3 linked regions of the Homo sapiens genome follow. The protein of the gene in region 2 interacts with the protein of the main gene of each other region in a biochemical or structural test. Each region holds a gene or a part of one and is shown on either strand. Other genes may lie near its edges.

Region 1 (7,985 bases), on a different chromosome or scaffold from region 2:
TCCACGGCCCGGTCCAGCGGGGAGTCCGAAACGCCACGTTGCGTTATCTCAGTTCCCAGCATTCACTACCCCTGGCAGGACCCCGGGCGCCGAGTCAACTCAGCGGAGTCTCCGGCCGGGCTATAAGGACCCGGGAACGGCAGGAAAACACGCGAGGCGCCGCTTTCGCGACCGCCCCAAACCCATCTTTTCTTCGGGAACTGCCCGCAAGACTTGGGGCTGGGGAGTGGAGCTGCTTCTCCGCACTCCCACTGCCCTCCGGAGCCCAGCACGTAGCCGGGCAGGAAAGGTGAAGCGTCTACAAGGCCTCAATTTCGAAACCGGACTCGGAAAATCCCGATTTCCTGTCCCAATAAGATGCCTTTATTGTGGCCGCGTCCGCTCTCGCCTCGGACGGCGGGGACTCTGGGGGCCCCTTACTGGGCCTGCTCTATACGCAGCCCCGCCCTGGATTTGAGTTTCTTGTTTTACATCTGGGAATTAGTCTCTCCAGGAGTCCTGGCGGGAGGGAGTGGGGGGAGAGAGGAAGTTGAGGACCTAAGGCCATTGAAGGTGAAGATGCGAGGAGGGGCGCCCTTAGGCCGACCCGCTGCCTCCCACCCGGACTCAGAATGTGTGCCCCAGGACAGAGGAAGCGGCACTGTAAAAGTGGCACATTTAGCTGGGTTTGAGTTTCTGACACGGATTAAAACCAAGGGCGGAGACTTACACTCCGGGTCTGCAGCGCACTCCCGGAGCCTGCTCATTCATTCCTCCACCCACCTGCGGCCTTGCCGGACCCTGGGAATCTTAAAAATGCTGTCCCACAGTCCCTGCCGTCTCTGGAACTGCAGCAGGTGCTCAGCCCCAGGATGGCTCCAGGCGCACTGACCTCATCCTCCATGAAACCACAGGGACCCACGCCTCTTGTAAATCTACTCATCTGTAAAATGGGAATAATGGAACCTCCCTCATAGAGTTGTGAAAGTAAATTAAAGAATATAGGCCGGGCGCTGTGGCTCACGCGTGTAATCCCAGCACTTTGGGAGGCCGAGGCGGGTGGATCAGGAGGTCAGCATATCAAGACTATCCTGGCTAACAAGGTGAAACCCCGTCTCTACTAAAAATACAAAAAATTAGCAGGGCGTGGTGGCATGCGCCCGTGGTCCCAGCTACTCGGGAGGCTGAGGCGGGAGAGTCGCTTGAACCCGGGAGGCAGAGGTTGCAGTGAGCCGAGATCGCACCACTGCACTCCAGCCTGGAGGAAAGAGCGAGACTCCGTCTCAAAAAAAACAATAAAATAAAATAAAATAATAAGAATATAGAGGCCGGGCGGATGCGGTGACTCACGCCTGTAATCCCAGCACTTTGGGAGGCCAAGGTGGGTGGATTATTTGAGGTCAGGAGTTCGAGACCAGCCTGGCCAACATAGCGAAACCCCGTCTCTACTAAAAATACAAAAATTAGCTGGGCGGTAGTGGCGCGCGCCTGTAATCCCATCTACTCGGGAGGCTGAGGCAGGAGAATCCCTTGAGCCTGGGAGGCGGAGGTTGCCGGTAAGCCGAGATCACGCCACTGTACTACAGCTTGGGCGACAGAGTGAGACCCTGTCTCACAAATATATATATATATATATATATATATATATATATAGAGAGAGAGAGAGAGAGAGAGAGAGAGAGAGAGAGAGAGCACTTAGCAGTTCCTGACACATAGTAAGTGCTCAATAAGTGTTATAAAAAAGAACTGCCGGACGCGGTGGCTCAGTAATCCCAGCACTTTAGAAAGCTGAGGGGGGCGGAGGCGGGCGGATCACTTCAGCTCAGGAGTTCAAGACCAGCCTGGCCAACATGGTGAAACCCTGTCAATAAAAAATTTAAAAAAAAAAAAAAAAAAAAAAAAAGCCAGTGGGGTGGCGCGCGCCTGTAGTCCCAGCTACTCAGAGTGGGTGAGGGGGTAGGGCTGCGGTGGGAGGATCGCTTGAGCCCGGCAGGCAATTGCAGTGAGCTCTGATCGCGCCACTGCACTCCAGCTTGGCCAAGAGACCGAAACCCTGTATTAAAAAAAAAAAAAAAAACCGCAGTGATGGCTTTCACTTTTTGCAGACGCACGTGCCACGTTTTACCTGCAGAAGCTCAACTAACCCGTCAAACAGCCTGGTCGGGGAGGTATTTCTACCCTTCTTGTCACTGATGAAGAAACTGAGACCTAGAGAGGGGGCCTAGCTTGCTCAGGCCGCTTCAACTAGAAAAAGGCCAAGCTGAATTCGCATTCAGGGCACTCTCCTCTTGCACAGTAAGGGGGCCGAGACTGGGGCCGAGCCGCGCAAGGGCGACTCCACGTTCCCTTGGTGGCCTGGAGGACTGAATTCTCGACCAGGCGACCAAAAATAACAACCAGCAGGAGCCGAGACCCGAGAGTCAGACCCCACCCAACCCAGCCAGAAATGAGGGAGAACTGGAGGGGGTCGCGCGGGGGCGGGGCCAAAGCCCCACGTGCGCCGCCTGCAGCCGCTTCAAGAAGCCCTTTGTCGCGAGCAGCCGCGTTCGTGCCGCACTCGGAGGCTTAAAATAAAGACAATGTTCCCAGCCTCCCTGCGGCTAAATCGGGCGCGAGTGCGGGGGTGGTGAGCGAGCCGGGCGGGAGCGCTTCTCCAGGCCGTACCTCTCTTCTCCCCTCCTGCCTCAGTTTCCCCATCTGATAAGGGTGAGCTAGCCAAGTCTGGGCGGGGACGTCAGAAGAGTGATACAGTGGTGGGGGTGGCGGGGGGCGTCATCCCCCTGCGTCCGCGACTGCACAGACTTCAGAAGAAAGCCGCGTGGGACAGAGGGGGGCACTCAGGAGGAGGCAGGGGAAAGCTGGACACCCTCCCCACCCGCCCACAAAATAAGTGTTTTTATTTCTAAAGGGACGTGTGCAGAGGCGGTGGGAGAAGAGAAAAGGGAGACCAAGGAGACTGGGGGGAGGTGGCAAAGAGGGAGCCTGATTCAGATTCGGAAATGGATGTTGAGCGTGGAGGCCTAACACCCCCACACTCAGCCACGTGTACGCGCACAAGTACACGCAGCCCCACCGCGCCGCCCAAGCCGCAGCCGCAAACCCAGGGCAGCCCAGCAGGGGGCATCCCGAGTCCGCGCCCAAGGGTAGGGACTGGTCAAGTTCTGACCCAACCCTGACCGGCTGGGTGACCCTGGGATGGAAAGGGGATGCTCACTTAGATTTCTCTCCAAGCTGCAGCGTCTGCTTGACTTCAGCAGGGAGGAGGACTGGGTGCCTGCTGGAACCCCAGCTGGCTTTGAGAAGCACAGATGCCCCCACATGTACCTGCCACGTGTGCCCACCAGTAGCTGCTGACCAAACCCCAGGAACTCCAGTTTCAGCTCCACTTGGCTCCATTGGCCAACTGGGCTCCTGGGTGAGAAAGCCCCAGGTTACCCTCAGGCACCAGCATTGGCGGGGTTGTGGGGGCGGGGGGCGGCGCTTGGTGGGGAAATGAGTAGGGGAAACCCCTGCCCCAGACTCCAGAGCCCTGGGCTTAGAGCCAAGTGACCTGAGCCCAAACACCTGCCCACCACATGCTAATCATACCTCTGCTCTTCAGATTTCTCACCTACAAAATGGGGATAATTGATGCTCCCATTCCTTCCCACCTCTCACCCCAAGACTTCGACACAGCCCAGTGGGCAAAGAACACAGCAGCCCCAGAAGGCAGTCCCTGCAGCCTCCAACTCTCCTCCCCAGTCAGCTCCCGGGGAGGTCTCTAGGGCCAAACAGAGGCGGTGCAGGACCCACATCTCTAGGGCAAACGGCCCCCCAGGGGTTCTATCTCTGAGGAAGCTCAACACAGAAGTCCAGACCAGCCTGGCAGGGAGGGATGCTGGCCTCACCCAGTAGGGCTGAGGGAGATTGGGAGGAGGGCTCATCTCCTCCCAGGTACACACCTGTGAGCCCTGAGTGGGAGTCAGGGGAGACAGAGCTTGACAAGCTGGGAGGAGAGCTGTCTGTCTGCCTGTCTGTCTTCCAAGTGGAAGCTTGGGGTGGAGCAGGCAGGTAGAGGCTGCCTCACTTGTCAGAATTAGCAAGTTCCACAGTTGGGCAACACTCAGCCACACATCAGATACAGACACACGTGTGCACACGCGTCCTGCCTCCAGACTGATAGGGTCACACCTGCACTTACACAGGCTGCATGGTGACATGAGTACACAGGGACACACATATGCAAGGCACTCAGCCGCACATGGGGCAGGCACCTGGCCCTCTACTCATCCCCGAAAAGCAGACACCCATATACCCTCACAACAGGCTATGCATAGCCCAATGCTAGCGCACACAGCCCAGCATGCGGGCACGTTCACTCAGCCCCCGGGCGGGTGCGCCAGCCCTCTGGGTCTGTTCCAAGTTGGAGCCTCTCACGTGAGGCCCAATGTGTCATTTCCAAACAGAAGGAATCTAGCTCTCTCACAGCAGGGAGGAAGAGCAGGGTGTGTAGTTGGGTGGGTGGGTGCGTGGGCATGTGCAGGGGGGAGGGCGTGTGTGCGAGGGAAGCAGGCATGTGAATACCAGGGCATGTGTGTTGGGGCATGGTGCACAGGGGCTGGGGGCTCTAAGGTTGGGTGGGGGGAGGAGCCCAAGGAAACAGTGTGCCTTTGTGAGGGTGTGTGTGCCGCCGGGTCTGTGCAGTGGGTGTGGGTGTTTGTCTCCCTGTATCCGCCTTCTCTCCCGTCCGGGACTTTTAGCCTTCCTGGGCTCGCCTTCCTCATGTCCTTTCTCCTCCCTCTTGGGGCTCAAATTGGGTGCCCTGGTGAAGGAGGGGGGCACACTCCAGAACCTAGTCCAACCCCAGACGCTGCCTGAGGCTTCCCTCCAGCTCCCCTCCCTTCCTTTTCTCCCTTTCCTCCCTCCCTCTCTTTCCCTTTCTCCCTCCCCGCTAAGGCTGGCGTGCCAGGGGGTGGGACATGCCAATCACTGGCTGTGCCTCTCCCGCTGCCAGCACAGGGCGCAGCTCCCCCTGGGAGCCAGGTGTTTGGGTCCCTGGAGACGCCGCAGGCCCCCAGGGAGGCAGTGGGGCTGAGGACCCTACAGACCCCTCTTCAGCCCCGTGGTGAGTACATTTGGGAGGGCTTGGGAGGGGCTGCACTAAGGTAGAGGGTAGGAGGGTCCTGGGGAGCGGGGGAGGGCAGGGATCAGGATGAGATGGAAATAGGGATGGACTCACAGAGATAGGAGGAGGCCAGGGAGGGGTCTAGAGGGCAAGGGGGCTCTGTAGCATTGAACACTGACTGCTCCAAACACTCGGCCTCCTGGCTTTGAGTGGATATAGCTGATGTTTTTCTGGGCTTCTGCTGGCAGAGGAGATGGAGATCCCCCTCAGGAAACTGGACCTGAGGCCCAGAAGGGATTAGGCTGCCTGGTAGCAAGCAGAACCCCCAACACCCTAGGGGCAGAGTGGGAAGGGCAAAGGGCCAGGAAGCAGCCCTTGCCACCAGCATCCTGTGGGAGGTTGACCCCCATCTTGATGGGGGTGCCAGTCCCAGAACCTCCTGTCCTCCCTCAGGGCACCCTGAAACCCACCACCCCCGTCCACCTCAGCTCCCCCAAGATGGACTGAATCAGGCTGCTGGCCAGATAGAGAAGCTAGAAGCCAAGGTGGGTGTCAGGCCAGAAGCCAGCAGGAGACCAGGCAAAGAGCCCCAGGGCTCTTTGGGGACAAATGGGCATGTGGGTGGCCACACTAGCCAGGGAAGGTGGCCCTGACGTGCGCAGGGGCCCAGAGGACCCTCCTTATGTTTCTAGTATCTTGGGCTCCCGCAGGGTGGGTCTCAGTCCTATATCCAGGCAATGCATGGATACCAATGGGCACCCACGCCAGGTACTCACCCCAGTGCCCGCAGACTGCACAACATGGGGATGGGCTAGGGGCCAGGAACTCTGATGCTTGTAGAGTTGTCAGCTCCTGGGCAGGCCAGCTGGGGAGGGGGTCGTCAGCTCTCATTAGGTCATCCAGACATGTGCAGCTTAGAGGTTATCAGAGCCAATGGAGAGGGGTTCACATCTTTGCACAAAACACACCTGCAGCTCCACCCAGACTGACCCAAGACCCCTGCCCAACTGGCTGGAAGGAGTCAGGCAGTCTCCAGTAGCCAGACAGTCTCCTTTCTCAGGGTAATCAGCTGTTCAGTGGGCTGTCAGATGAGAGTTCTCTGCCCTCTGACCTCAGCCACCAGGCAAGCTGCAGTCGCTATCGCGGCTGAGATATGAAAGGGAAGGAGATAGTGAAATGGGCTGCAGAAGATGTGGGTCTTGGCTCGCAGCTGACAGCTGGCGGTTGGAGTTCTGAGAACTGGATTCTGAAGTGTAATGGGGAGTCCAAAGTGTCAAGAAGGGGCTAACCAGAGGTCATGTCAGACCTAGAAAGGAGGCTTTCTATTGTATGGAGGGACTGAGGCTGAGAAAGGGAAAGGGACATGCTCATGGTCGGAGAAGGGATATGTAGGGATCCAGCTGGGGCTCGGACCCCTTCTCCGCATCCTCAGCACAACACTGCGCTGCCGCCTCCATGAGCAGGAAGATGGGGTGGGAGAGCAGGGGGCGCAGTAAGCTCTGAGACGCAGAAGCTTGGGCTCCCAGCAGGCGGGGAGAGGTGGGTGAATTGCGCTGGGTTTCTGCTCTGCTGTGGTGCCATGGTGATGCCTACAAGGATGGAGGAGGGAGGGAGAGAGAAGAAAGGAAATGAGGAGGAGAGTGCAAGGAGCCAGGAGCAGGGGGCTTGCGGAGAGGAGGATGAGGGACCCAGAACCTCTGATGCCACACTGGCAGAGTGAGGTCTAGGGTCCAGCTGCTCATGCCCAGGCTCTGTCATGGTCTGGCCAAAGTCAGGCAACTGCTTAAGATCCATCATGGGTGAGCAAATTTGGCAGTGATTCTAGGGCTGATGCTTCTCTTCCAGCTAAGCAGTGTGTTTCATGTAGCATTTAACTGATGGCTGCTGCCCTCCACAAGACTAGTTGGCCCTCCCAATGGCAACTGTTGAGCCTTAAAAATGTGATAAATTCTGTTTACTCCCTCATTCTCAAAGCCAGACATCAGGGGTGGAAGTTTTGTGCACCTTAATGGGTCAAGAGCTGCTGTCAAAGAAAAGTTAACCCCGAGGGGAGAGCTGCCTCGTATGGGCTGGCTTCTGGGGTCAGGCCCTAGCAGAAGGGATCAGTGAGTAGACCTGGCCAGAAGGAGCGCCCTCCTCATTGCATATGTGAGGCCTCAGGTGCCCAACCCCACAGCCCCCTCCACATACCTCCCACTCCCCAATGTTATCCCCTCTTCCTAACCAGGACTCTACCAGCTTCCAGGCCCAGAATCACAAGATGGCTCCGCTCCTCCCTCCTAAATATCTTCCCCAGCATCCCCTCATTCCCTCCCTCCCCTTCTGTACTCTTTGGCCAGCGGTACGTTCAGAAAAGCCTGGTGTTCAGGAATCCCTCTCCCCATTTCCCTTTCCCTGCCTCCCCCAGTGGTTCTCTCCACTCCCAGTTGCTCTCACAAGCCAGATCCCCAGCCCCTAGGGATTGGTCCTGGGCGCTGGGAGTCAACAGTCTGGCCTGCTGTAATAAAGGCTCTGACCTCATCCCTTAACCCTTTGAGCCCAGGCTAACATTCTCCTCTCCCCAGTGACAAATGCTTTGGCACGTCCATGTCTGTCCTGGCACCTCACTTAGCTTCCCTGCAGCCGGGTGAGGCAGGGTTTCCTTGGTCCACTTTACAGACAAGGATGCTCTTGGCTGTTTTTCTCCTATGCTCTCCAGCCAGGCAGGGCCTCACTCAGGGAAGCAGGGACCTGGCAGATGAGATGTGGGAGCTCAAGGGAGAAGAGGGGCCTCTGGACCATGCTCTGGACCTGGTCCTGACCCCCACAGGTTCACCCTCAGGCTCCAGGGTCTGAAGTTGAGTACACACACGTACATTTATTCCACAGGTATTTATTGAGCAACTACTATCTGCCAAGCCCT
Region 2 (7,102 bases):
ACTTATACAAACCTAGATGGTAGAGCCTGCTACACACCTGAGCTAAATGGTATAACCTATTGCTTCTAGGCTGCAAACCTGTACAGCATGTTACTCTACTGAATATTGCAGGCAACTATAACACAGTGGTAAGTATGTGTGTCTAAACATACCTAAACATAGAAAATAGACAGTAAAAATATGGTATAAAAGACTTAAAAATTGTACACCTGTAAAGGGCACTTACCATGGATAGAGCTTGCAGGAAGGGAAGTTACTCTGGGTGAGTCAGTGGGTGAGTGGTGAGTGAACATGAAGGCCTAGGACATTACTGAACACTACTGTAGACTTTATAAATGCTGTACACTTAGGTTATACTAAATCTATATTAAAAATTTTTCTTTCATGAATAATCAATTAACCTTAGCTTACTGTAACATTTTTATTTTATAAACTTAATTGTTTTAACTTTTGACTCTTTTGTAATAATACTTAGTTTACTATTTTTTAATGTTTTTATCAACTCCCAATCACTTGAAATTAACACTTAAAATAAGCATTGTATGTGTAACTGTACCAAGTATTTTCTTCCTTTACATCCTTATCCTATTTTTTTTATTTTAAATATCTTTAGTATTTACTTTCTAAATTTTTTGTTTAAAATGAAGACACAAACACACACATTAGCCTGGGCCTACACCAGGTCAGGATAATCAATATCACTGTCTTCCACCTCCACATCTTGTCCCACTGGAAGGTCTTCAGGAGCAGTAACACATGGAGCTGTCATTTCTTATAACAACAATGCCTTCTTCTGGAATACCTCCTGAAGGACCTGCCTGAGGCTTACAGTTAACTTTTGTTTTAATAAGGAGAAGGTGTATACTCTAAAATAACGATATAAAGTACAGTATAGTATATACATAGGCCAGTAACAGGTATTTATTATCAAATATTATGCACTGTACATAATTGTATTGCTAGATTTTTATATGGCTGCAGCACAGTAGGTCTGTTTACACCAGCATCACCACAACACATGAGTACTGCAGTTATAACCCTACGAGGGCTACGACGTCACTAGGCAATAGGAATTTTTCAGCTCCATTATAGTCTTATGGGACCACCATTGTATACATGGTCTGTTATTGACCAAAACATCATTAGGCAGCACATGACTGTATGATTATCTATATATCTCTAGCACTTTTTCTGAAAATGGAAAGATCTGCATTCTGATCCAAAAGAAGAGGCTGATCCACAATCGGTATGTGAAAATGCTGACTGAACTCAATGCCTGCTGGAAAGTATATGATTTATAAATATAGTTAGGAAAATGTAAATATATTATCTTTTTACATCTAATCCTTAGTTACATGGATTTAAGTTTTTATGATACCTATACACCCAATTTTTATAGTGGGATCATGGGATCAGAATCAGATTAAGGGGTAGATGGGCTGGCAATTTCCTGGGACCCTAATCTGTAAAAGAATCTAAACTAATGCCAAGGCCAAGCATGGTGGCTCATGCCTGTAAAATAGGACAGGGAACATCAGATATGCCAGGCTCCTCTTAGGGAATGGGTTGAGAGTGGACAGAGAGGGTAAAAGTTTTAAAAGAGGTCTCAGGTAGGGACAGGAGTGGTAATGAATCTAATGCAACCACACATGAACACACACACACACACACACACACACACACACACACACACACTGCATTCTCATGTTAGAAAACATCCTCATCCTCATGGTTTCTTTTTTTTTTTTTTTTTTTTTTTTTTTGAGAGTGGCTCTGTCACCCAGCTGGAGTGCCGTGGCACGATCTTGGCTCACTGCAGCTTCCACCTCCCAGGTTCTAAGGGATTCTCCTGCCTTATGGTAGCTGGGATTACAGGTGCGTGCCACCACGCCCAGCTAATTTTGTATTTTTTGTAGAGACGGGGTTTCACCATGTTGGCCAGGCTGGTCTCGAACTCCTGACCTCAGGTGATCCACCAGCCTTGGCCTCCCAAAGTCCTGGGATTATAGGCATGAGCCACTGAGCCTGGCCCATCCTCATGGTTTCTAAACTGTCAACTAAAGAAAGTAGATATCATTAAGAATGAACCATGGGGCTCCTGTTTTGCTGAGTGGGCCATACGCAGCACACTGCCACCAGCACCTTTCCTCCTCCCCTCTTCTCTACAGAAGCAGGCACTCCCTAGATGATGGCTGAGGAAATGTTTCAAGAATAGCAAGTGTGAAGCGACACCAGGCCAGAGCCTTCCAAGACACCCAGGGCTTGTTCATGCCCTGAGTACGATCAGTGTTGCAACACTGTATGTATATGTACCATGCTTCATATTTCCTTAATACATAGGATTGATTTCTCCTTCCTATTTGTCCTTGTTCCTCTCAAATCGAAACTCACATTCCTATAGATCTCAATACCCCTAGAGGCAATCAAAACAGGTTATTAAAGTAATTCATAATAGGAGTTTACCAACAGAGTTTACCTTACCAGGTATTGTTGATTGTTAAAGAGAGCTTGGTAACCTAAATAGAGATCTCATTGGTAAGATGTGTTTGGAGGTCTTCCCACCTTTCTCTAGAAGAGTGCTGGCTACTTTTAAACACCTTCCTGATACTCTGCTTGCTCCCCACCTTGCATCCCAGGTACCTACCTATAAGCCCTTCTTAGAAATATCTTCCACTTGCCACTTATTTTATTCTGGGTCAGTTCCTTGCAGGAGGTGAAATATTCAAGGGCCTAATGCTTAGTTCTAGGAAGATACTGTTCACTCAGCACCTTCCACGTTTCAATACTCCAAAATTAATTCACTGATATATGATGCGGAAAAAGCCATAATTCCCCAAACCAGCGCACCCCCAGCAAATGCTATCCACTGTATGAATCAGCTCCTGGCTTAGCACCAGATATTCAGAGTGATTGGAAACATAACTGAAAAGTAACTGAAGTCAACAATGCCCATAATCAAAAGAATGAAAGCTATTTCCCTTTTAAGAGAAACTACTTAAAAAGGAGTTGGGGGTAAGAAGAAAAAGAAGGAAGGAAGAAAACCCAGTTGTGACTTGGCGTTTACTTGAAGAGGAGCTAGCAGAATGTAGTGCATAGACAGTTTCACAGCACAGAGGGAAGGCATCGCTCAGAAGGCTTCCTTGGCACTATTAAATTTCTTTGGTGGCAGCCTCGGCTGGGAAGGCAAGGCACAGAAGTTGCATTCAGGGTTCTGAGGACCAGGAGGTGGTGTCTGCGCACTTACAGGGATAGAACGGCTCAGGAATCTCGCTGAAGAAGAAGAAAGCCCGGTGTAGGAGGGTCGGAGGATGGTGGTGTGCTCCTCTGTCTTGGCGCTGTGGGGGCCTGGGGGGCTGTTCAGGTTGCCCCCGTTGCTGTTGCTGCTTCTGTTGTACTGATTATTGTTGAGCTCAGGGTAATTTCTGGTAGTTGGCTGGGAGCTGCCATTCAAGAGGTTGGTAAACGGGCTGGCTGTGAAGCCTGCCTTAGAGGATGAGGAGGTCTTTTTGTTCTCTGGATCATCTGTTGCAGCATTCAAGTTCCCTAGAGAACTGGCTAGCCGGGAGTTTATGGAAAAGCTGAATGGAAAACACAAGTGAGGAGGGAAAAAACAGACAACAATGTACAATCACACAGAGCTCACGTTTCTAAAACACATACTCATGACATTAGGGGAACATGATGAAGATGAATCTGATCAATGTGAATGATGTCAGGATGGCTTCCTCATCACCCTTGGTGTTATGATAATATGTAGCCTTGAGTTATACATATCAAGTTGCTTTGTCAAAAGCAGTTAACTAGGACCCAAGAAACTGGCTAAAACACTTTGACTACAGATCTTGAAATAGAACATCACAGAGTTTTATTTACCCTGGGGTGGGAAGTAAAGGAAAAGGGCCATGTAAGGGGAGCATTAAAAGCAGACTTAAGTACATATTCAATCACATGACTACATCAAACATCCCTACCCATTTTGGTTAGTTCTCCCTTGCCTATACGTGTCAGCTGAGAAATGACAATATCATTTGTATATACAACTGAACTCCATTTTCTGGATCACACTAAGCCAGCTGCTCACTCTCTAGAAGAAGAGCACGCTTTGCACCATTCCCTCCACAACCTTGTCTCCTGCCTTCCCAAGACAGGAACGGAAGCCCCAGAACATCACAGGGTCTTCCGTGGTTTCTCCTCTTCTCCCTTGTCCCCTCCTCTGACAAAACTGCAGCTAAACTCATCGCCTGCTGCAAGCTTCCTTTACCTCAAACCAGCACCTTAGAAGAGGGAGAGAAAAATTACCTTCTTACAGTGGCACCCGAAGACAAAGAAGTTCTGTTGATCCTCTTGGCCGTTGCTGAAGGGGACAGTGCCATTTTTGATGTCTTCAAAGTAACTGCAGATCCTTGCAGGGATGAACTTAATCTTTGCGGAGAAAAATGGCAAAGTGTCACAATAAAGTAGTCTTATCTTAAACATTCAGCAACTAACTAGGACAAGATAAATTAATCAATCTTAAAGATATCATGACAGGTCCTAATAGTGATGACAGCAGCGGCAGCCACCACTGACACAGCACTAACTCTGCCAGGCACTGTTCTAAGAACCTTAAAGATGTCAGCTCAGCTTGTCCTTACAACAACCCTAAGAAGTAGCTAATATTGCTGTCCTTACTTTACAAGTGAGGAAACAAAAACACAGAGGAAAAGTTCCTCATCCAGTCACTCAGTTAGTGAACAGCAGACCTGGGATTCAAACCCAGGAGTCAAAGTCCTGCTCTTAGCCATGATCCTGTCTTCCTGGGCCACTGCCCTTCTTTGCCACTGGTATTCATTCCTCAGCACAACCTTAGATTCCACTTCTTATATGTCAAATCCATCCTCTTCTTTTCACCCTGCAAACTACCCTAGGCGAGGCCATCTTTATTTCTTATCCTTGACTACAAGTGGCATCTTTTAATCTTATTCCTAAACAATTCAAATTGTGAATAGCCTTCAGTGAATCATGTCACTTCACTGTTTAAATCATTTCATCTTTCCTCTGTGCCCACAAGCCTATAGAAACTCTTTGGCTTGGCATATGCAGCCCCTCCAAAATCTGGACAGGTCCTTCTTTCCACACTTTCCCATTGGACATCTCTATTCCAGCTACATAAGAATGCCTTGAGTTCCCTGAATGGGTAGCGTCCACACGTTTGTCCAGTTTGCACAGACTATTTCCCTGCCATGGCATTTTCTCATCTCCTTCCCATCCTCTACCTCTTATCTTCCATGTCCATTTGACCCACTTCTATCACACTTAGCCTTTAATGGTCCAATCAGCTGTTACCTCATCAAGCAAGCCTTCTCTGAGTTCCCAAGCAATATATGTTTCATCATATATTCTCATAGTAAATCATAGCTCTTATACCATATTGCGTCATCTGATATTTGTCTATCTCCGTTACCTGATGTAAGCTCCTTGAGGGCAAAGACTTCTCTCTCATTTCAATTCCCAGTGGCTAGCACAATGCTGGATTCTGAGCAGGTGCTCAATAAATATTTGCCAAGTGGACAAAAAGGAAAAACTGACTCAAATCTGGAGAGCCAGGGCCCAGTCATAATCTTAATACCAAATCTGTTTGATCCTAGATAAATCATTTAATATAGCTGAACTCTGTTTTCCTCTCTGCTAGAGAAAAGCTTATTTACTTGTAGACTCTTTCCTTCATTATCCACCCACCAAACAGCAGCTTAAGCTCATGTTTTGCCTCCAAAATAAAAATGGAAAAAGTTCTACAAAGAAGCAATTCAAGCTTCTCCAGAAGCTCCAGATGCTTAAGCCCTCTTTGAACTGCCCTCACTAAACAGTCCTAAACCTAAGAATGAATAAGAACCAGCAGGTGAAGAGCTTCTTTCCCCTATTTCATCAACACTCTTGGCCAAACATCTCTGCTGCTCTCACTGAGTGCCACACCAGATCGTGGTACCACTCCCGGAGGTTTCAGGGGACATTTTTCCACAGAACAAAACTAGTGTTTCCTCTTGAAAAGGAAGGTAGAGAAGAAAATAAGACTAGAAAATAAAGGAGGGGAACAAATGCATGCTGATTGGGAAAAAATAGAAAGAGGACCAATAAAAATGAAAACAATTTAAGCTAGATCTATCACTAGATCAAAAGGAGAAATGCAGAGCACCTGTAGTTTCTTAGAGACCCCCCTCCACAATGTGCTAAGAGCACAAAATACATTGATGTCTCTACCACCACCACACAGTCCTGTGGGCATGCCAGCAAAAAAAAAAAAAAATCCTTTTCATGGTGAGCATTAAAAATAAGGCATAAACAATATGGAAGAGAAAGGAAGCAATTTAAAAAGCAAAAAGCTGTGTACAGTTGATTTTCGTGTTTGAGGCTTGGGAAACATGGCTAAAAGGAAGCATATATTTACAAGCTACTAGACATTCAACCTCATTGGCAGTACCTGAAAGGCTGGGACACTGCTCTTGGATGTCCTTTTGTATCATCTGACCTGCGGAAATCAAAGACAGATGCTCACATATCACCAGGGCACACGTTTTCACAAAGACCACAAGGCACATCAAATGGTATCAAACCAGTAAAAATATTAAATTAGCAAAAGGGAGAAACCTTGCAAATGGATATTAGATTACCCAGAACCAGGCTTGCTATCCCCTTTTCTCATAATACTGCAGAAAATGATAACCTCATCTTTGAGCAATATGAACCTTTATTCCTTAGATCAGGAACTCAGTAAAGACCCAATCTGACTACAGTGTTATAGTTTCTCCCAGATTACACATGAAAACTAAATTCCCTGTGAATCTGTTTGGTGTTTACCATACCGGCAAAACATCCTTCTGCTATGTGTATCTCTTATTTATAAGTCAAAAAAATGTTGCTGCTTACCATTATATTAATTTGTGGACTGGGGCCTTGCCACCCAGTATATTGTAATTTTAAAAAATGATGATATTTACAAACGTTTGCACCTTTTGATTCCCCTTTTTTTAAACCCAATCTGAGCTATCAGCAGGTTTCAAATGTGATCAGAAGTCAAGTCCCATCATTGATTCTGGTGAGTAGTTTGAGACTTCAAAGTCAAGAT
Region 3 (7,310 bases), on a different chromosome or scaffold from region 2:
AGGGGACAAAAGAGCAAAAGACAAAATGTTTAATACATACTCATCAACAGAGCCCGCCAATGGCTTTTTTGATCGCTTAATGGCATAAATGCATCCATCCAGCCTCTTCACACACTTAAATACAGAACCAAATTCTCCAGAGCCGATTTTCTCTAGCTCATGAAATTCTGTTGTATACCGGGACTTCATATTGCTTTCAGTAATTGTAATTCTCTGTAATAAAAAGTGTTTCCATATATGTAATACAAATATACGAAAACAGTTATTTCTTGCTATGGTGATAGGGCTATGTGTGAAATTTAAAAACCATTCTACCTTATGTGTTAATGCTTATTAACATATTCATAGCATGCTTTAAGTGGCAGAAAAGTAAATTTCAAAAAAATAAAAATAAAAAGCTATTTACCTTAGCAGGTCTTGTTTCATCTTCAAGCTCATAATCACTGGCTTCCATGTCTTCACCACAGGAACTAAAAAAAATGTTATTTTTCTATCAATATATCTGACAGATACATCCATGCCATTAAATAGGAACTAAATTTTGATAAGTATACCAAACCAATCTTAGGTTATTTGGAGAACCAAACTGTTAAATAAACGACTTACTCATTCCAATACGTTCTCTTTCTACGACGACACTGTCCTGAGGAATGAAGCAACAAAGAATCCGGAGTAAAAGGATTAATATTCACTTGAGGAGTCTGTCGCACATCAAATTCCCTTTTTCCTGATTTTTCTGTATCCATGAAGAGAGAACTACCCCGGAGTTTAACAGAGCTGGAATCAATTCCCCGAGCTTTGGAGAGCAAACTCTAGGGAAAGAAAAATACAAATACAATTTTTAGGATCCAAGTCCTATAGTCAGCCTTCTCAACCTAACCTTCAACGAGCCTTTCATAGGGCTGAATGCGTAGGTGAAAGCAACACACAAGCCTTTGTTAGAGTTCAAGCAAAATAAATTGTGGCTAATTTAGGAAGACTGAAGCTGGATATTAACTATCTTTTCTTGAAAAAAATAGCCAAGTAAAATCTGCCTCTAACCCTAAAAAGAATATAAATGCTGCCTAAAACTAAGTTCATTCTAGTGGCTAAAAGTTAACAAATTCTTTCAACCCATCCAAAAATAGAAAGCAGTCCGAGAGCCCCATAAAATCTCCCCTCCCCCATCTAGATAGGGCTTCCATAGCCACCTCCGCTGGACTCCTCCCCTCACTTCCAGAGGGATTTTGCCTTGAGCAAGTCGGCCAATAAACAGTACAGCTCGAAAGCACACAGATTGCCTAGGCTGATGACAAACAGTACATTGAAAACAAAACAAACTCACTTTAAAAGGTGCATCTTCCCTGTTAACCTTACAAATGCGAGGCTTGTCTTAATCTCTGGAAGTATCAGCTTTAAAATCTGCAGTTTTAAAAGTGGTCATCTGCGCAGTACTCGAAGGCCTTTCAAAACACAGGTGCTGAACACCTCCTTCTTTAAGATACCTTATCTACGGTAGGATGTTCCTAATCACACGGAGGCCGGCCAAACTCTGGGCACCGCAAACCCACGATAAAAACAAATGCTGGGCCAAGACCTTGTCCAGAAACAGGCCTCAGTACTGCCTGGACTTAGGATGAGTCTGTAGGACTGTAAATGCTTGGAAGGCCAGCCTTTACTCCCAAGTCCAAGCGTAGTCTCCCTGCATGCCCCAGACCTTTCCCCCATCCACGCCACACGACACGACACGATCAGGGCGGGACAATTATTTTTCTTTAAACTCCTTCTGCCCGCGCCGCCCAAATTACAGGCCCGATCGCCGCGTTTAAAAGGCATCCTATGGCTCGGGAGTGTCAGGTGGCCGGGCCGGCACCCTCCAGCATCCTCGCGAACCGCGTTATCGGTGCCGCACTCGGGGCTGACACGCTCGGGGCGGCCCGGACTCAACGGGCGGCAAATCCTTGGCCACCCGGACGGGCCGATCGGCCCCTTTGTAAGATGAAGTTCCAGACGAGGCCCATTGTTCAGTTACATAATCTCAACGGACAACCTCGGGGCAGGGCCAAACACAAGGGCTGCCAACTTTGGGGGGCGGCGCAGGAAAGCGAGGGGGGAGCGGCCGGCCGCTTCTGTAACCGAACCCAGGCAGCGGCGCTGGCCCCTCCGGCGCCGCGGCCCCGGCCGCCGGGTGCCCGCGCCCGCCGCTCTCACCTTGGGCGTGTGCGGGGTGTCGAAGAGTCGCAGCTTGCGGAAGGTCTTGTGTGGCGGGGTGCCCGGGTGGTCCGGCCGCGGCGAGCGGCGGCCTTCGCCCGCCCGGCGCGCCCCGCAACCCCGCGGCGACGCATCTCCTGGGCCGCCGCAGCGCACCGGCGAGAAAGAGCTACCCAGGAAGTAGGGGGCCGCCGGCGACTTGACCGGCGACGAGGAGCCGAAGCCCTCCTCCTCCCACGAGTCGCCCTCCGCCCCACCGCCCGCCTCGTCCGCGCCCGGGCAGGCGCCGGGCAGCAACAGGTCCTCCTCCAGCTCGCCGGGGCTGCCGGGGGCCGGCCCGGGCGAGCGGCGGCGCTCGGGCCCGGGCTCCGTGGGGCTCCGCGCGGGCGGCAGCGGCGAGTCGGGCTCTTGAAAGGCCGAGTCCTCCCCGGTGCTGTGGCCGCTGCCCTCCTCCTCCTCCTCTTCTTCCTCCTCCTCACAGTCGCTGCAGGGCGAGAAGATCAGCTTCTGCCGCAAGGTGCAGGCCGCCCCGGCGCGGCGGGGTGGCGGCGGCTGCTGTCGGCTCAGGAAGCTCATCGCGGCCCTGGGGACGGGGCCGAGGACAGGAGAGCGGAGGCCTGCGGGGTCCAGGACACTGCGGGCCTGGGGGCGGGTCCGCCACGTGCGGCTGGGCGCGCCTAGTCGCAGCCGCGGCGTCTCTGCGCGGCGGCGGCCTGCGGCTCCGGGGCGCTCGGGCTGCGGACGGTGGCGGCAGCGGCGGCGCGGACTTTCCGGCAGAGGCGGGGCGGCCCGAGCACCGAGGCTGAGGTCTCCTCAGGTCCAGTCTCAGGTTCGGGCTCCGCGGCTTCCCGCGACCGTTAACCACGTGAGTGCCCAGTCCACCAATCCCAGTGCAGCTCCGGGTTTGAAAAAAAAAGGAGGGCGCGACGTAGCCCGCGGGGGAAGGACCAGCTACGCGATTTTGGCGGGAACCCGCTGGCTCCACCCCCGGCTCGGCGCCAGCCAAGTCTGGGCGGGCTGTGGTGTTCCGGGCCTATGAGCGAGCCTGGGGCGGCGGGGGGCCCGGCCCGGCGCCGCCCGAACACCGCCCGGACGGGGCTGGGCCTTCTGGGAGGGGCAAAAGAGAGCTGGATTCGCCTAAGCCGACCCGAAAGCCGGCCTGGACGCACCCCCCTCGCTGCTCCTCCGGTGCTGGGGGATCTGAAGAGGGGCAGGCGGCCGGGCAGCGCCTCCGGGTCTCTGCGAGCTGGGAAGAGCCAGGGACCGAATGGCCTTCGGCCGCTGCCCTCGGAGGCCGCTTCTTGCCCCTCGTCCCCTGGGGCGAGCCACTGGGGCGTAGTGGGCGTGGCAGTGGGCAGCCACGTTCAGGGTCGAGGTCTGAGCCGGAAATGGTGACTCGGGCCTCGGGACCTTTCTGAACTGCGGGAGCCGATGTGCTTAGGCTGGACACTGGCTGGGAGGAGGCCTCCGAGCCCCATTATTTCCCCGGGGTGGGTGACTGTTAGGGGCGGGTGTCAGCACAGCGAGAAGAGCTCTCCCAAGCAGGGGTCCACCTCTGCCGACCTTGTCCGCGGCCAAAAGAAACAGCAGCACAGTTGCCCACCACGAAACCAAGTGCCCGGCACACGATCTCCGTGTTTACATTTGTTCGCCAGCACGTGGGCATGCGTTGGCAAAACCGATTGGCCCGGCTCGCGGCAAACTCAAACGCAATTTTAAAAAATTTCCCTAGTGCTTCGTTAAACTGATTTAATCTGTCCCTTAATGCACTTACACGTTTCTTCCAGTTTTCTTTTTTCTTTCTTTGTTTATTTATTTTTTTTTTTTTTTCTGAGACGGGGTCTTGCTCTGTCACCCAGGCTGGAGTGCAGTGGCACGATCTCGGCTCACTACAACCTGCAACCTCCGCCTTTAGAGTTCAAGCGATTCTCATGCCTCAGCCACCCGAGTAGCTGGGATTACAGGCGGCTGCCACCACACCTGGCTAATTTTTGTATTTTTAGTAGAGACGAACTTCCCAATGTTGGCCAGGCTGGTCTCCAACTCCTGATCTCAAGTGATCCGCCCGCCTCGGCCTCTCAAAGTGCTGGAATTACAGACGTGAACCACCGCTCCCGGCCTCTTCCAGTTTTCTGTTGTAAACAACCCCGTGGTGTATATGCTTCCTTCTCCATGTTTTTTGTTTGGTTTGGTTTTTTTCGACACGGAGTCTCGCTCTGTCGCCCCAGGCTGGAGTGCAGTGGCGCGATCTCGGCTCACTGCAGCCCCCACCTCCCGGGTTCTCGGGTTCCAGCGATTCTCCTGTCTCCCGGGTAGCTGGTATTACAAGCACATACCAGGCCTGGCCAATTTTTGTATTTTTACAAAATGCAAAATACGGAGTTTCACCATGTTGGCAGGCTGGTCTCAAACTCCTGACCTCAGGTGATCTGCCCGCCTCGGCCTCCCAAAGTGCTAGGATTACAGGCGTGAGCCACCGCGCCTGGCCTTTTTAAAATACTCTTTTGGATACCTCCCTGGAGTTAGAATTCCTCAGTCAAAGGATATAAACTGGCAAACTCCCCCTCCAGAAACACAATACATTCTCACTAGCAGTGGATTAGAGCACACTCTGTGAATTCAGGACATCAGTGGATGTTCGTTGATGTGGTTTTGTTGTTTTGATTCATATTGTTGAACAGTTGTCATGGGTTTAATGATAATTTACATTTATCTCTATTGCCTATTTTTCTTATTGTTAGCACTTTATGCATATTAACACTTTGTCATATATGTTGTTCTAATGCTTTTCAAAGGCTAAATAAACTCAAGCTGAATTTTTCTTGAAACACACGGTAGTACTTAACACATCAAATCGGGAATTTCCTGAGATCACACAACTGAAGACACAGTGAAGGATCAACAGCTGTCTTTTCTCCTAACATTTGCTAACTGGTGTATAAATGTGTTTTTTATATGGTCATGCAAACTTAATTTTAAGCTCTTGGAGGACAAGAATTCTAGACTTGTATAAGGAGAGTTAGTCAATGATCCACAGTGGCCAAAGCCAAGGAGTGATTTTCAGAACCCTTGCTCCAACACTTCCCCTCCTGCCACTCCTTTTTTTTAAATTTTTATTTTTCGAGACAGGGTCTCACTCTGTCCACCCTGTCTCAAAGTGGAGTACAGTGGTGCAATCACGGCTCTGTAGCCTCGATCTCCCCAGGCTCAAGAGATCCTCCCACCTCACCCTCCCAAATAGCTGGGACTAATGATGTGTGCTACCACGCCCAGCTAATATTTGCATTTTTAGTAGAGACTCTGTTTCACCATGTTGCCCAGGCTGGTCTAGAACTCCTGGGCTCAAGCAATCTGCCCGTCTCCGTCTCCCAAAGTGCTGGAATTACAGGCATGAGCCACCATATTGCCCAGGCTGTGGGCCCCCTCCTGCCACTCCTGATGACAAATATAATTATTTGATATAATTGACATTTTCTCAATTTATTATGAAGCATAAATAAAAATAGAGAACCCTACTTTTATCGATCTGTAACATAAACTGCATGTGAAAATAGTGTGCTTTCTAAGTAAATGGGACTTTAAAGCCCTTTAGTTGCCTCTCCACAACTAGACTGATGCTCCTAAACTCCTCCTATGTAAGAATTCCGTATCTCTGTTCTCACGTCCCCTCCCTCACTCTTTGCTCTTTCACAACACCTGGCTTTATTTCCTTAGCAGGCTTATTTCTATCTCAAAGTACGTTGTTAGTTTATTACTATCTCCTTCTAGAAAAATAAGGTCCCCGAGGGTAGGGGACCCTTGTTTATTGCAGTATTCTAACGTGGATTAGGCGTTCACTCCCTTGTGAGTGATAAAAGAGCCCTTATTTAAATAATTGTTGGTTTATTCGCTTCCTAAATTGGCACATTTGCAGATAAGTTTGCCTATTTAAGATTTTGAATCGGGTGTGGTAGTTGTTCACACCTGCAATCCCAACACTTTGGGAGGTCAAGACAGGAGGATCACTTGAGGCCAGGAGTTCAAGACCAGCCTGGACAACATAGTGAGACCTCACCTCTACTAAAAATTTAAAAATTAGCTGGGCATGGTGTCACATGCCTGTGGTCCCAGCTACTCAGGAGGCTGAAGTGGGAGGATCCCTTGAGCCTGAGAGATGAAGGCTGCAGTGAGCTGTGATTGTGCCACTGCACTCCAGCCTAGGCAGCAGACCGAGAACTATCTCAGGAAAAAAAAAAAAAAATTGAACAGAGATCACCACTCTAGTACTCTATTTAATGCAAGATTGTAGAGGTAGCAGCCATCACACTTCCTATTTTTCCCCATGGTTTTTCCCCACTCCAGTAACAAAAACTTAAATGGTACAAAATTCTCCCACCTATCCCTTCAAATCCCAGCCCAGTTCCCCTTCCTGAAGGTAAACACTCTTAACAATGTTTTGTTTTGTTTTGTCAACTCCTACTTTGCCACCTGTCTGCGTCCCTAAATGGGAGGTCTTTGAAGTAGGCTAAGGCAGGCAGAAGGGCTTGGGTTGTGGATGGGAAGGGAAGAGTTCTTGGTCCACAGACCCAGGACTTTGAAGTCCTCACACAGAATCGAAGAGGTAAGTTCACAATAAATGTGTAGAATGATTGGGGGAAATAATTTTTTTTTTTTTTTTCCTTGAGACAAGGGTTTGCTCTATTGCCCAGGCTGGAGTGCAGTGGTGCGTTCACGGCTCACTGCAACCTCCCCTTCTGGGCTCAAGCAATTCTCCCACCTCAGCCTCTTGAGTAGCCAGGACTACAGGCAAGTGCCACTACACCTGGTGAATTTTTGTATTTTTTGTAGAGACCGGGTCTCACCATGTTGCCCAGGCTGGTCTTGAACTCCTGAGCTCAAGTGATCTGCCTACCTCAGCCTCTCACAGGGTTGGGATTACAGGTGTGAGCCACTGCACCTGGCTGAAGGAATTTTTTTTTTAAGTTGAAACCAAGACTCAGTGCTAGAGCCATTTCCTCTGTGAAGCCTTTCCTGACTCTCCATTCCCTACTCCAGACTTTCCACCGCACCCAGCACGGACTATGTAACACTCTTACTTTGTTTACTTGTCTGGTTTTCACACTGCCCAGGGCAGGGTCCAA

The links.
Region 1: of the proteins of CDC14A (region 2) and CHRM1, one has a biochemical effect on the other in vitro, tested with the Homo sapiens proteins (one study listed by BioGRID).
Region 3: of the proteins of CDC14A (region 2) and WEE1, one has a biochemical effect on the other in vitro, tested with the Homo sapiens proteins (one study listed by BioGRID).

What each region holds. Positions count from the first base shown.
Region 1 is NC_000011.10:62,918,316-62,926,300, reverse strand, and holds the start of CHRM1 (muscarinic acetylcholine receptor M1), read left to right. Parts: upstream 1-4,937; 5' UTR 4,938-5,083; intron 5,084-5,859; exon of another isoform or gene 5,860-6,141; intron 6,142-7,939; exon of another isoform or gene 7,940-7,985. UniProt on the Homo sapiens protein: The muscarinic acetylcholine receptor mediates various cellular responses, including inhibition of adenylate cyclase, breakdown of phosphoinositides and modulation of potassium channels through the action of G proteins.
Region 2 is NC_000001.11:100,495,405-100,502,506, reverse strand, and holds part of CDC14A (dual specificity protein phosphatase CDC14A), read right to left. Parts: intron 6,506-7,102; coding exon 6,458-6,505; intron 4,423-6,457; coding exon 4,300-4,422; intron 3,579-4,299; coding exon 3,245-3,578; coding exon of another isoform or gene 3,128-3,244; exon of another isoform or gene 3,047-3,127; intron 1-3,046. UniProt on the Homo sapiens protein: Dual-specificity phosphatase. Required for centrosome separation and productive cytokinesis during cell division. Dephosphorylates SIRT2 around early anaphase.
Region 3 is NC_000011.10:9,569,390-9,576,699, reverse strand, and holds the start of WEE1 (wee1-like protein kinase), read right to left. Parts: upstream 3,031-7,310; 5' UTR 2,767-3,030; coding exon 2,191-2,766; intron 2,014-2,190; exon of another isoform or gene 1,325-2,013; intron 1,208-1,324; exon of another isoform or gene 1,191-1,207; intron 813-1,190; coding exon 607-812; intron 471-606; coding exon 407-470; intron 214-406; coding exon 41-213; intron 1-40. UniProt on the Homo sapiens protein: Acts as a negative regulator of entry into mitosis (G2 to M transition) by protecting the nucleus from cytoplasmically activated cyclin B1-complexed CDK1 before the onset of mitosis by mediating phosphorylation of CDK1 on 'Tyr-15'.